Homo sapiens: one gene and its partners. The protein of the gene in region 2 purifies or fractionates together with the protein of the main gene of each other region. This does not show direct contact. Each region holds a gene or a part of one and is shown on either strand. Other genes may lie near its edges.

Evidence for each region. Proteins that work in one complex are often made in the same cells at the same time.
Region 1: the proteins of LAD1 (region 2) and KLHL18 purify together in Homo sapiens (affinity purification with mass spectrometry; one large-scale study listed by BioGRID and IntAct). This does not show direct contact.
Region 3: the proteins of LAD1 (region 2) and OLA1 fractionate together in Homo sapiens (co-fractionation; one large-scale study listed by BioGRID). This does not show direct contact.

Annotation. Positions count from the first base shown.
Region 1 is NC_000003.12:47,341,087-47,344,808, reverse strand, and holds part of KLHL18 (kelch-like protein 18), read right to left. Parts: intron 2,091-3,722; coding exon 1,979-2,090; intron 1,255-1,978; coding exon 868-1,254; 3' UTR 1-867. UniProt on the Homo sapiens protein: Substrate-specific adapter of a BCR (BTB-CUL3-RBX1) E3 ubiquitin-protein ligase complex required for mitotic progression and cytokinesis.
Region 2 is NC_000001.11:201,384,058-201,389,324, reverse strand, and holds part of LAD1 (ladinin-1), read left to right. Parts: intron 1-21; coding exon 22-165; intron 166-2,146; coding exon 2,147-2,990; intron 2,991-3,519; coding exon 3,520-3,624; intron 3,625-4,489; coding exon 4,490-4,533; intron 4,534-5,267. UniProt on the Homo sapiens protein: Anchoring filament protein which is a component of the basement membrane zone.
Region 3 is NC_000002.12:174,119,354-174,123,889, reverse strand, and holds part of OLA1 (obg-like ATPase 1), read left to right. Parts: intron 1-214; coding exon 215-295; intron 296-612; coding exon 613-710; intron 711-4,536. UniProt on the Homo sapiens protein: Hydrolyzes ATP, and can also hydrolyze GTP with lower efficiency. Has lower affinity for GTP.

The DNA of each region.
Region 1 (3,722 bases), on a different chromosome or scaffold from region 2:
CGAGGCCTCAGGACCCTGGGATCCGAATGTGGGGTGGATACCGCCCTTCTCCAGTTAGACGATTTTCCATTTAAACATAGATTTGCCGTTAGTGTCTTTTATGCTTTTTTCTTCTTGCAAAATTTGTTCACATAAAAAAATTATTTTTCTTTCCAGTTTCTTTCAAGTGTTTCTTTGTTTAAATTTCCTTCAGTTTCTTTCAAGTATCTTTTTTTCCCTTCTGTTCTCCTGGACAGATCAAAAGGCCTCACTGAAATCCCAAAATTAGACATGGGGAAAACTTCTCTTCTCCCTGCTTACCCAGCAATGAGGACAGAATCCTTGGTGCCCCACTGTGGAAGAAGGAATGTGCCTGTGTGCAGCCTTCCACTGCTGTGGCCACACCATCTCAGGCAGGGAGAACGCTTGGGTCTGTCCTTTCGTCCCCAGCTACATCCCAGTTTCCAGCAGGCTTGGACACTGCAGCCTCCCCATGGCAAATTGGCCAGACTCGGCTGGAGAGCAAGCAGGCGATGGGGAGCATCAGATGGAAGGCCTTCTGTGAACAGCTGGCCCACAGAGAGGCGGTGGGTAGGAGCTGGGCCTGGATGGAGCCTGTGTTCATGTGGACCAGAAAACAGTTCCATGTCACCAGCTGCAGGATCCAGAGGAGCTTGTGTTCCATGCTGTGCATCTTGATGACCCAAGCCTGAAGGTCACAAGGGTGGCACAGTGGGGGAGGGCTTAAGCACCTGGAAAAACTGTACCTCCGGCGAGCTCACGTTTCGCCATCTCTTCTGGTCCACTGCCTCTCCTGAGGGACTGTTCCTGGAAGGAAGCGCCTATGTCTGTACCAGATCCCTGCCCCACCACATCCCATCCTCTGCCTTAGATGGTGAGGAGAGGGATGCAGCCCACACCGACCCCTCCCTCATGGCACGCCATGGGGGCCATGAATGTCCAGCAGTCTGTCTCTGGGTCATACATCTCCACTGAGCTTAGGTTTGACTGTCCGTCGTAGCCCCCAACAGCGTAGAGGCGCCCACAGCTGGCCACCAGGGAGACCCGGCTCCTGCGCGTGTGCATGGGGACAATCAGGCACCACTGGTCTGCCACAGAGCTGTACATCTCGGCAATGCTGAGGAAGCCAGAGCCATCGTAGCCCCCGCAGACAAACATCTTGCTCCCCAGGGAGGCGGCTCCGTGCCGGCAGCGCTTGTTGAGCATGCCAGCTGCAGGGTGCCAGGTGGCTGTGTGGTGGTTGTAGTGTTCCACCTGCAGTGGGGAGAGAGGCACAGGTACAGGACAGTCAGAGGCAAAGCTCAGTCCATGGAGTGACCGTGCAGGGCACAGCAGCCCCCCATGATGTCAAACTCCTGTGGGAGGTATGGGGACAAGGAGCTCTCCCAGTATTCCCTCTGCTGCAGGCCTGCTCTTTGGTGTATGGGGACAGGGAGAGGTCACCTCACCTAACCCTTTCTGTTTGCATCTAAGGAAACAAAAAGGATGTGCCCAAGGATGCAATGCTAGGTAGTGACAGAACCTGTATGAGAGCTGGGTCTCCTGTAATCTCCAGGGCTCTCCACTGCAGCACTGACTGACTATGGAATGACTAGTAAATGGCTGTTGAGCCTTTTTTACAGAATAAATACAATTTCAAACAAATTATCCAAAAGAATACAACTGTTTGCAAATTTACACTTGGTCTATAACTGAACTTACTTTGGGCAGGAATCTCACAAGTTCTATGTAGTGTTCAACAGACAGTAGAACAGGGTGGTGGCTGCAGATGTGACTACCCTTTGCCCTTCTTTTGTGTACACTGGCTCATTCTCTGGAAGTTCAGAATTTCAGAAGGTGCAGTGGATAGCCTGAAACCTCACTAGATGATACTTTATTCAGCTGTGGCAAGGCTGAAGTTTTTTCAAATAATGATCTTCTAAAATAAATCTCAAAGACAGAAGTAGGTACCCTTATCCCAGGGGGAGCCCAGACTCACACTGCTGAAGATCTGCAAACCATCATGGCCGCCTGACACATATATCCTGCCCTCAAAGACTGTAACCCCAGCAGCACTGCGATTCGAGCTCATCGAGGTCACCACTGTCCATCTTCAGGAAAGAGTCAAAATAGGAGGGGAAGCATGAGATTCAGGGTTCTTGTTCCCTCAAGACAGCCTAGCAGGGTTTAGGTGAACTGTGCTGGCCATCTCTCCATCTCTTATCACCTCTCCCACCACCTCTCTGACAGTTCTCCCTGGCTGCCGCCTCTCACCCAAGCTGCAAACCCACAGCCCATCTTCTCTGCTCATCTCCATGGCTGCTCAAAATCATTGTCTCATACAAGACCTCTTTCTCCTACAGTTCTGCTCCTCCCTGCACTCCCTGCCTTGTTAAGCAGACCACCAGCCCTCTAGCTGCTGTACTTATAAAGCTCAGTGCTATTCTGGCTGCTTCTCCCTCACCATCAACATTCCTGTGGTCCCCCAAGTCCTGGCTGGTTTGCTTCCTAGTCAGTGCTTGCTCCCATCCCCACTACCAGTGCCCTACCCCTGACCTCTCATCTGGACCACTGCAACAGCCTCTTTACAGGCAGCCTGGCTTTCCTACCAGTCCCATCCGACCCCACCCAGCCAGAGGGATTGCTCCTCCTGTACCTGCACCATGTCCGTCCAGTGGCTCCTCACTGTCTCCTCTAAGAGAATCCAGGTTCCTTCATGTGGTTTTTAATTTTTTTTTATTTTTGAGACAGGGTCTCACTCTGTCACCCAGGCTGGAATGCAGTGGTGCTATCATAGCTCAATGCAGTTCTGACCTCCCAGAATCAAGCAATCTTCCTGCCTCAGCCTTCTCAGTAGCTGGGACTAGAGGCTTATGCCACCATGCCTGGCTAATGTTTTTTTCTCTCTCTCCTTTTTTTTTTTTTTTTTTTTTAAAAGAGACAGGGTCTCTCTTATGTTGCCTAGGCTGGTCTCAAACTCCTAGGCTCAAGTTACCTTCCTGCCTTGGCCTCCCAAAGTGTTAGGATTACAGGCGTGAGCCACTGTGCCCAGCCCTTCATGTGGTTCTTCACCTCTTGGTCCTCAACCACCCTTCAGCTTCACCCCACACCACATGCCACCCACCCTGCTCCGTCTCCCATCCACACGCTGTGCTCTAGCCCATGAGAGGATCATTGCTGTTCTCGATTACAGTGAACACTTTCTTATTGCAGCCTCACTCCTTGTTGTCTCCCTATGATGAGCAAACACCTCCCATTGGCTATCCATGACAGGTCTCACCTTGGAAGACATCCCTGCTACCCTGTCCCTTCCTGCAACCCTGGGGAAGATGAAGGTTCTCTCTGCTCTGTGCCCAAGAGCTTCTGACACAGGCCTCCAGGGTAGGATGATCATGATGCAACCCATGGCCCAACCACATTGGATGCTTTAAAGGATCTCAGACACCCAGCTTGCTGTCTGATCCACAGTAGATTGGTCAAGTGAACAGAATACTGGCTTAAAGGCATCCTAATAAGTCCATTCAACTAATTTGTTTATATTTTATTATATAAGATGAGAGGATTCAAATACTGAAATGAAAAACTCGGGCTAACCTTGTCAATGTTTTTCAAAGAGTGTTCCACAAATGAGTCCCACAAGATGGTGACTGTTGTGTATATAAAACCCGAGGTTAAACAGAGTTATTTACTGCAGGGTTTCTTAGAGTCTTTAAAATGTTAATATATCTTATGGAAAGACAAGG
Region 2 (5,267 bases):
CCCTCTCCTCCCCTCCCCCAGCCTTGCCCGGCAGAGGACTCTGGAGGATGAGGAGGAACAGGAGCGCGAGCGCAGGCGGCGGCACCGCAACCTGAGCTCCACCACGGACGATGAGGCTCCCAGGCTCAGCCAGAATGGAGACCGGCAGGCCTCTGCTTCTGAGAGGTAGGTGCTCAGGTTTCTATCCTGATGGATGGGGATGGACTGGTTGCCTCAGACTAAGTGCAGCATATTCAGTCTGCTCAGGGAGTTGGGGCCCAGGAAATGAGGCTGAAGGGTGTGATGATGAATTTCCAGTTCCCCACCTTCCCCAGACTCAGTCCTGCCAGCTTCCATCCTCTTCATAACAATGCTTGCTACTATTTGTAGACCATCCATGAGCCAATACTGTGCTGGACATTTTATGGCCATAGCTCACGTAATCCACACAATGTCCCTGAGAGAGAGGTATTGTTAACCCATTTTACAGGTGGAGTAACAGGGTTGAAAAGTACTTAGGTGACTTGCTGAGGTCACGTACCTCAAGAGTGGCAGGGCCAGAATGTCCATCCAGATCTGTCAAGCTCCCGCCTCCTTCCATTATCCAGGCTGCCTTCTTCTAACCCTGACCCTCTATAATTTACTTCTTTTTTTTTTTTTTTTTGAGACGAAGTCTCGCTGTGTCGCTAGGCTGGAGTGCAGTGGCGCGATCTCAGCTCACTGCAAGCTCCGCCTCCTAGGTTCAAGCAATTCTTCTGCCTCAGCCTCCTGAGTAGCTGGGACTACAGGCACCCACCACCACAGCCAGCTAATTTTTGTATTTTTAGTAGAAATGGGGTTTTACCATGTTGGCCAGGATGGTCTCGATCTGTTGACCTCATGATCCACCTGCCTTGGCCTCCCAAAGTGCTGGGAATACAGGCATGAGCCACCGTGCCCAGCTGCCTTTTTTTTTTTTGAGATGGAGTCTTGCTCTGTCACCCCGGCTGGAGTGCAGTGGCGCAATCTTGGCTCACTGCAACCTCCGCCTCCCAGGTTCAAGCTATTTTGCCTCAGCCTCCCGAGTAGCTGAGATTAAAGGCACCTGCCACCATGCCCGGATAATTTTTGTATTTTTAGGAGAGATGGGGTTTCACCATGTTGGGCAGGCTGATCTTGAACTCCTGACCTCAGGTGATCCACCAGCCTCAACTTCCCAGTGCTGGGATTACAGGTGTGAGCCGCTGCACCGGCCTATAATTTACTTCTGAGGAGAAGAACCTTGGGGCTAGTTTTGCCATCTAGATTTTGGGATTATGAGGTGGGGGAAGAGCCTGGGGTTTACTGAATGCCACCTACATGCCAGGACTGTCCTGGGCACCCTCATGAGTCTCATTTTGCTTCCTAACAAGCCCAGTTTGTAGATGTGAAAACTGAGGCTCCGACAGTAAGTTAACTTGCCTGAAAGCACATGGAGAGCAGGGTGATGAGGAAGGAAAATAATCTCCTTTTGCTGGAGGCCAGGTGCTGTGGGTTATGGACAATCCTCTCATGTTACTTTTGTTTCTTTGGGTCCCCCAAGAAGGGAGAACAGGGCTGTGATGACCCTCTCCTCTCCTGTCCTCCCCTCCCCCAGCCTTGCCCGGCAGCAGACTCTGGAGGATGTCCAGAGCTGGGCTGCACCAGTACCTGTGGCTGTCACCTAGTCTTGGCTGCACCCACAAGACTGACAGGAGTGTGGAATGGTGCATCGGAAGACTTAGGTTCTGCTCCCAGCTCCCCCACGAATCAGCTGTGTGACCTTGACAAAATCCCTGGACATCTCTAGTCTTGATCTAAGATCTAAGGGGCAGAGACTGTGCTTATTCCTTTTGATCCCCAATGCCCCAAGCAGGCTCTGGCACATATTAAAGCAGTTATTCAGAGTCTGTTGACTACGTCTGAACATGGAGTCGTTGGACTTCATAGGAATTTATAAGCTTTTTAAAAAGCATAGTGTGCTTTGCTCAGATGATACCTTGGAAGTGCAATATATCGAGTGGATAAAGGTGGTGGTGAGCCGGGGAGGCCAGGGCCTGACATCCTCACCTCCTCCTTGGTGGCCCTGGCAGCATCTCCATTGGGTTAGGTATACTTAGGGTATCTTCCACCTCTATCCTCTGATTCTGTCTCCCATCTTCTGATTCAGACTACCGAGCGTGGAAGAAGCAGAGGTGCCCAAGCCACTGCCCCCAGCCTCCAAAGATGAGGACGAGGACATCCAGAGCATCCTCAGAACACGGCAGGAGCGGAGGCAGAGGCGGCAGGTGGTGGAGGCTGCACAGGCCCCCATCCAGGAGAGGCTGGAGGCAGAGGAGGGGAGGAACAGCTTGAGCCCTGTGCAGGCCACACAGAAACCCCTAGTCTCCAAGAAGGAACTGGAAATCCCACCTCGCCGGAGACTGAGTCGGGAACAGCGGGGCCCCTGGGCCCTGGAGGAGGAGAGCTTGGTGGGCAGGGAGCCAGAAGAGAGGAAGAAAGGGGTTCCAGAAAAGTCCCCAGTCTTGGAGAAGTCCTCCATGCCAAAGAAGACGGCACCTGAAAAGAGCCTGGTCTCCGATAAAACCTCCATCTCTGAGAAGGTGCTGGCCTCAGAGAAGACATCTCTATCAGAGAAGATAGCAGTGTCAGAGAAAAGAAACAGCTCAGAGAAGAAGTCTGTTCTAGAAAAAACCAGTGTCTCTGAGAAGTCGCTGGCCCCAGGGATGGCACTGGGCTCAGGAAGGAGGCTGGTGTCTGAGAAAGCTTCCATCTTTGAGAAGGCACTGGCCTCAGAGAAGAGCCCAACTGCAGATGCTAAGCCGGCCCCAAAGAGGGCCACAGCCTCAGAGCAGCCCCTGGCGCAGGAGCCGCCAGCCTCTGGGGGAAGCCCAGCCACCACCAAGGAGCAGAGAGGAAGGGCCCTCCCTGGGAAGAACCTGCCCTCTTTGGCAAAGCAGGGGGCTTCAGACCCTCCGACTGTGGCCTCCCGCCTCCCACCCGTCACACTCCAGGTTGGCAGTGTCCCGTCCCTCCCACCCTTCTACTCTGCCACCTGGCTGGCACTGCCGGCCAGTCCCACCCAGGTAGTCCCTGGTTCCCTGGCTGCCTCCATCCTCCTACCTGCAGGCTGGCCTTGGAAGTCTCTTCTTTCCCTGCCTGCTTCTAGCCATGGTCAGAGCAGGGAGGCTGAGATGGGGCAGGCTGCTGGAGCTTAAAGGGGCACCAGCTGTGGGGCAGGGAGCATCTGGTGCCCCCCACCATATCCTCATCCAGGGCCTGGGCTCCAGGACCCCGGCAGACTAGTGGGGAGCCTCAGATCCTTCTAGAAGCTCCCCTGGAAAGCTCTGCCTGGTGCCCTGGCCCCAAGGGACTTTGTCTGTGAGCCACTCCCACAGCAGATGAAGGAGGCAGGAGAGAAGGCACAGGGCTGTCTCATTCTCCCCTCTTCCTGCAGCTCCTGGGGTGAGCCATGGGGTTTATGGCTGCCCCGGCTTGATGGGCCCTAGACCTCTTATGTGACACTCCCCCTGCTCCATCCAGGTGAAAATCCCCAGCAAGGAGGAAGAGGCAGATATGTCCTCACCCACACAGCGAACCTACAGCAGCTCCCTCAAACGCTCCAGCCCCAGGACCATCTCCTTTCGGGTGAGAGCCCTGGGCACCCTGGTCTGCGAGCCACTGGAGGGCAAGTGGAGGAAGCCCGCATCCATTACAACATAGGAGCCGTAGGTTAGGTAGGAAGGTCCCCTGGATAGAGAGGAGCTTTGGATTCCCATGGGTGGCCCTGAACAAACAAGGTTGTATTCAGCAGAGGAGAACAGGTTAGTAACCTGGGGGGTAGGTGCCAGTAAGCATGAGCAGCCCCACCTAGTGGGCAAGGCCAGGGCTGCATGAAGACCGGACAGGCAGGGCTGGCCCTGGGCTGCAGGGAGGTCCACACCTGCCTTCATCAGTTCCTGGCCTCACCTAGGAGACTTGTCTAGGAGGGGAGGGGAGGAACAGAGAGCAGCAAGGCTCTCCTACTGCTCCCTGCCCTGCCACTCTCCCAATAGTACAAACTATGTGGATTGGGGAAATCTCGTCTTGCTTTGTCCTGGTGTTTATTCTTGGTTCTTCTGTTCACTGGGTCATTCACTCAATCATTGGGTATCATGCCTCTAATGTGTGCCAGGCCCTGGAGAGGTGGCCCAATAGCGACTGGTGCCCCCACAGAGCTCATGGGCAGTGGGAGGCAGATAGGAAACAGGTGGTTACAGGTGCCCTGCGAAGGAAGTCTGAAGAAAGTCTTCTGACCCATATTAGTGGGTGGGAACCTGTGTCTTCCAGATACAAACAAGGATCTTTAACGAAGGCTTGTCCACATATTTCTTTGGTGGGGTTGACCCCTGGTAGAAGGGGTGGGAGGTCTGAAGAGGAGGAGGACATGTCTTGAGAGCTGGGCTCCTCACTCGAGGGGGCCACCGATTTCCCGGGGACTCCCACACAACAATGCCTTTCCTTCTCATTTCAGATGAAACCCAAGAAAGAAAACTCGGAAACAACCCTAACTCGCAGGTGGGGGGCCTGGAGGCTCTGGTTCTTTCTATTTGGCCATGTTCAGGCTATTTTCTGAGTACCTGCACCCGCCCTCCTTGTGCCAGGCTGTGCGGTAGGGCACATGAGGGGAAGGTGCAGTCCTTGCCCAGGGCTCCAGATCTGGCAGGGGGATGGGATTAACAGGATGAACTCAGGCGGGATAAGATGGAACAAGGATGGGGAAGGATCAGGGAGAGCTGCTCAGAGGAGGCAGGGCTTGGGTGGGGCCCCAAAGGGGGATGAGGGTTTAGCCTTGAGGTTAGGACAGGGAAAGGGGGCTTTCTGGGAGGGAGACCACGAACAGTGTAAGGGAGGGGAAGCCCCTGCTCCAGCAGGCCTGGTTGGGGGGCTGTGGGTCTGCAGGTTTAACAAGGATTCCTGGGCTCGCTGGTGTTGATGCAAGAAGCCTGAGGACTATGCTTTGAAAAAAAAGCAAAACTGAAATAGGATCTGAGAAGCAGATGTGCTTATGTATTAGGAATGTCATCCACTCATGCTGTATTCATCTGCCCCATGAACATTTACTGGAGCCTACTACACTAGGCTAGGCCTGGGGGCTGGGGTGGGGGTGGAGGAGGAGGAGTACAAAGACAAATGACACAGCTGCTGTCCTCAAGCAACTCACACCCACCCAGCAAACCTATAGCAGCTCTCTCAAACATGAGAACATTACATACTGGCCAACCAGGGAGGGACAGGGACACAGGAATATG
Region 3 (4,536 bases), on a different chromosome or scaffold from region 2:
ATATTGTCCATTTTATACATTAAAAATTTAATGCCACAATGTTTTATTAGTAATTGGTTTTTAAATGAGATATTGAAAATAATTATTTGTGTGACCTAGCCCCCTTTCATTAAAACAATCTATTTTTATTTTGAAAATTTGAAAACTTTTTAATATTTAGTATCTAAATGTTTAGTTATTCATATATATTTACCTTTTTCTCAATCATGTGTAGGATATAATGTGCAAAGTAAAATCCTGGGTTATAGATCAAAAGAAACCTGTTCGCTTCTATCATGATTGGAATGACAAAGAGGTAAGTTGTAAATATCATGCCATCTATTACTGCCTTTGCTTTCATTTGCTAGGGAACAAATTAGAGTTGTTGTTATTTTACACTTACCATTATATCTAAATTTTTATTTCTGTCAGTGATTGCTTATTCCTGGGCTTGTTATTTTTTTCTTTTCCCCCACTCATGATATTTCATAACCACTAATCTTTTGGAAAGAAGAATTATAAAAATGAAAATGCCTACTTGTTTTAAGGAATGTTTACTTTCAAATTCTTCAGTGATTTACTCCATATTTACTAAACTTTTAAAAGGGATTCTTTCTCCATCTCCCACTTTAGATTGAAGTGTTGAATAAACACTTATTTTTGACTTCAAAACCAATGGTCTACTTGGTTAATCTTTCTGAAAAAGACTACATTAGAAAGAAAAACAAATGGTAAGTTTTTCCTCACCAGATATACCCAGATGCATCATCTCTGTACACACACAAACACACACCCACATATATGTACTTAACGGCAATGTTTAATTTTAATATTTTTCTCCTTATTAAAAAGTTTAAAATGGATGAGAAAGCTGTGCTTGGTATTTACCTTCACAGATGAGTCTTCTAATTGACTTAGAGAACTTAAGAAAAACTGAATTAAATAAGCAATATTGAATTATATACATTTACTTATCAAATGTAAGTTTATTAGACATTATCGTTTATTTCCATTGCAAAATGAGAATAAATGTAGTCACAACAATAAAACTTCTTACACTAGGAATTTCTAGCTGTGTTGATATTATAAGTGACTTTAAAATACCCACCTGGGGTTGTAGCTGGGCATGAATTTTAAAATCCAGATTGAATGCTTTAAAAAAAAAAAAAAAAAGACTGTGTGTGGGGAAAGACCAGTACCTGTTTCAAATGCTTTAAAAGTACATCGAGGTAAAAACTATGCATTCATGTATTGATTGTCATTTTTGGCATGTAACCAAAATGTACAAGATTTGTTACTATCACTGATAACTTCAGAAAATTATATGTTCATGTACCTGTGGGCATGTCCACATTTGGCATACCACTCACTTTGACTTGCCTCACTGGACTCTTAAGTATTTTATACTATTGAGTCATACAAACAAATCAAAACTATCCAAAGCAAAATATCTGAATTCTCCTAAACTATATTGTCTGTTTCTCCCTGTACTTCATTAAGTACTTAGATGCACATGGTTTCAATTTTCCATTAAAAATTCTCATTTCCATATGATATCAAAGAGTGAGAAGGCTTTAAACTGAAAAATAAACATTCATAGACTGGAAGCCAAAACAATAATTAATGTCAGATGGTTAACTCCAATAAATCATTAGAATAAATTCTGTGAAATTACTGCAACTAAAAATGCCCTGTTGATATTACTATAAGACATTTTGTGTTCCTGATAGGAAGATGAATTTAGCCTCTTTATTGGTAATGTTCTAAAAAGCATAAATTTAACATAAAGATTTCATTCAGCTGGTCAGTATCCTCCATCAGGTAATTAACTTTAAAATAATCAGTTCTGTCGCCTTTCAAATTCTTATAAATTTGATGATTAATGTGTTAAAAATTGTTACCTTTAGGAATGAATTTTAAAATTTATTACTTGACCTCAGTTAATAAATCTTCTCATTGTGGTATGAATGGTAAGGTTTCCTGAGGCTCTGTGAAACAATACAGACATCAAAGTTTACATGAAAAGGGATGAGTCAGTTTCCTTGCCCAAAGGGACTTCTCACACCTGTATTTGGATGATTACAGGTAGAACTCCCTGGCTCTAATTGTATAGTAAATACCATTTCCCAGACCCTAATGGTAGACAGACTGCTTAGGAGACGCCAGTCTGTGATTTAGCTGTCGCCAGACACCCCATGTTTTTTGTGAGACCAGTTGTGATGATGACATGGTTATAGCCAATTGAAAGTAAACCCTTGTCTAAATAGCAAATTTTAATTTATAATAATGTAGAGGTATGAATGATCCTATTTTATAAAACCAAATCTTAATAGGTTTTATGTATAACTAATGATCTGGCTTGGGGTTGGTGTGTGTATGTCTTGGGGGGAGGGTTGGGAGGGATCCAGATCTTGTGGAAGTTAGTGTAATTGTAGCTGAAAGATCAAAGACTGGGTAACTGAATGATGTTCCAGAAGAGAATTTACCACATAGCCATTTTCTGTACAGTTTCTGCCGCCTGCTGTTCCTATTTTCCCTCAAGCTAGCCATTGACTACCCCCTGTGCATCCCTGCTCGTAAAAAATGATTGAGGAAGTATTTGTCATATATTTATGAGTGGGAAATATTGTGTGATAGGGAATGGCATCTACTGGAGCCAGAAAGATTGCCATTTTCCTTTCATTCAGCCACTCTGCTACAGCTTTAAATCCTCTCTGTTTATGCAACATAGCCTTTGTATTAAAGTGCAGAATAAATTTTTATTATGAGGGATATGAACACTAGGTTTTCATCATTTATAACACTGAAAGCAGATGTAAATAGTTAAAATCCATTTTAACTACTAAATCCTTTTAATTGTGTTAGCATCTTGTTTTTTGGTAATGTTTACATCTAAGCTCCATTTGCATTATTAGTTGCTTCTTTAGCAAAAGAAAAAGTTTTTGTTTTTTAAGATTAACATGTAATGTTACTATAGCAAATAAGACTGATGCAGGAAACAGTAATAAATACTTTCATGGGTCTTTTAGATCTGGAAAACTATTTTAAACCATCAAGAAAGAGGAGAGGAGAGGTTTGTGACTTTGGCCACAAGAGGAGACTAAAACTGTTGTTATTTTAGCAGGTCACCATTTCAGAAGTATTGAACACTTTAGTTACTGAAGTTCACCCTAAATGTAAATGGTAATGTGTTATTTTTCAACCCTAGAAAAGAAGGAAGCATTTTGAAAGATAAGTCTATTGTGTTATTGAGTAGCTATATTGACATTTTGTGAGATGCAAAAACTGGAATGGCTGCAAGCATTAGTCATTGAATTAGTCATTTCATTGATTTATGACTAAAGACCTAGCCCCTGAAGAGAAGCTGACATGGCAGCCGGGTTGGTTGCAGTTGTGTTATGATCAAATGACAGTAATCAAGATGTTGTAAGTGAATCCACAAACCATTTTTTATTATTACAAATTGCTGTTTCTTGAATGAGTAAAACTATATAGAAGTTTTTGTTGTTTTTGGTGAGCACAAGCATTTTTGAACACTTGAGGTTTTCATTTTCTAAACACGATCAGCTGTTACTTATAACTAAGATTATACTATAGACGGTATTAATTTTCATTTGAGATTGCTTACTGAGTCATGGTGTCAAGCAGGTACAGGACATTAGAACTGTCAAACTACTGCTTAATTAGGGGTTTAAATTTCAATCTTTGCACCCTTGCTGCTCTGTTAGTAGAATATGCCATCCAATTATGAAATCAGTAGAATAAACTAATTTTACATATTTTTTACACCTACCAGCCATCAATTATGTTTCATTTTTGTGATCCTACCTTTCTTGAAACTGTTAATAAAGGATAATTATATTTTATTATTTATTATACTACATATTTATGTTCAACTGGAAAATATAACTAAACTTTTAGATACGCAGACTGTGTGTGTGTGTGTGTGTGTGTTTGTGTGTGTGTGTGTTATACACACATTTTCATATGCCCTGGTGGGCTTGTAGTCATTTAACATTACCTTTTGGGTAATATTATATGAGTCAATTAATCTGAGTGATGAAATTGATTCAAGATAGGTAGACAAATACTTGGAAAGTCTTTTAAGTTGTTTAATAATGAAGGGCAATGTGTCAAGTTCACTAAATGCATTTTAAATAGAAAAATGTTTTATTATTCTTATTATACCATGATTCAGTTCCTTCCCCTTTCCCATCTTTATGTGTTCATTAGTTTTCCACATAATTTGTACATAACAACTAAAAATAGTTTGGGGATACTACACATTATGTGCTTGGTTTGGGGGGAATCATGGAATAAATATATTTTCTTGATTTCTTGAGCTGCCTATAAAAATTACAGCTACTATATCTCAGTAAGTGTATATGTAGGTGGAAGTGTGTATATTTTTGACACACAATTTTCTATTTCTGTATGTGTGCATATATATACAAACACATATATGCATATAAATATAAAAAACTATTTCTATAGAACTATTGTAGGAGGTCATCAGTTTCTGACAAGATCATTTAAGCTAGAAATATAACACAGACA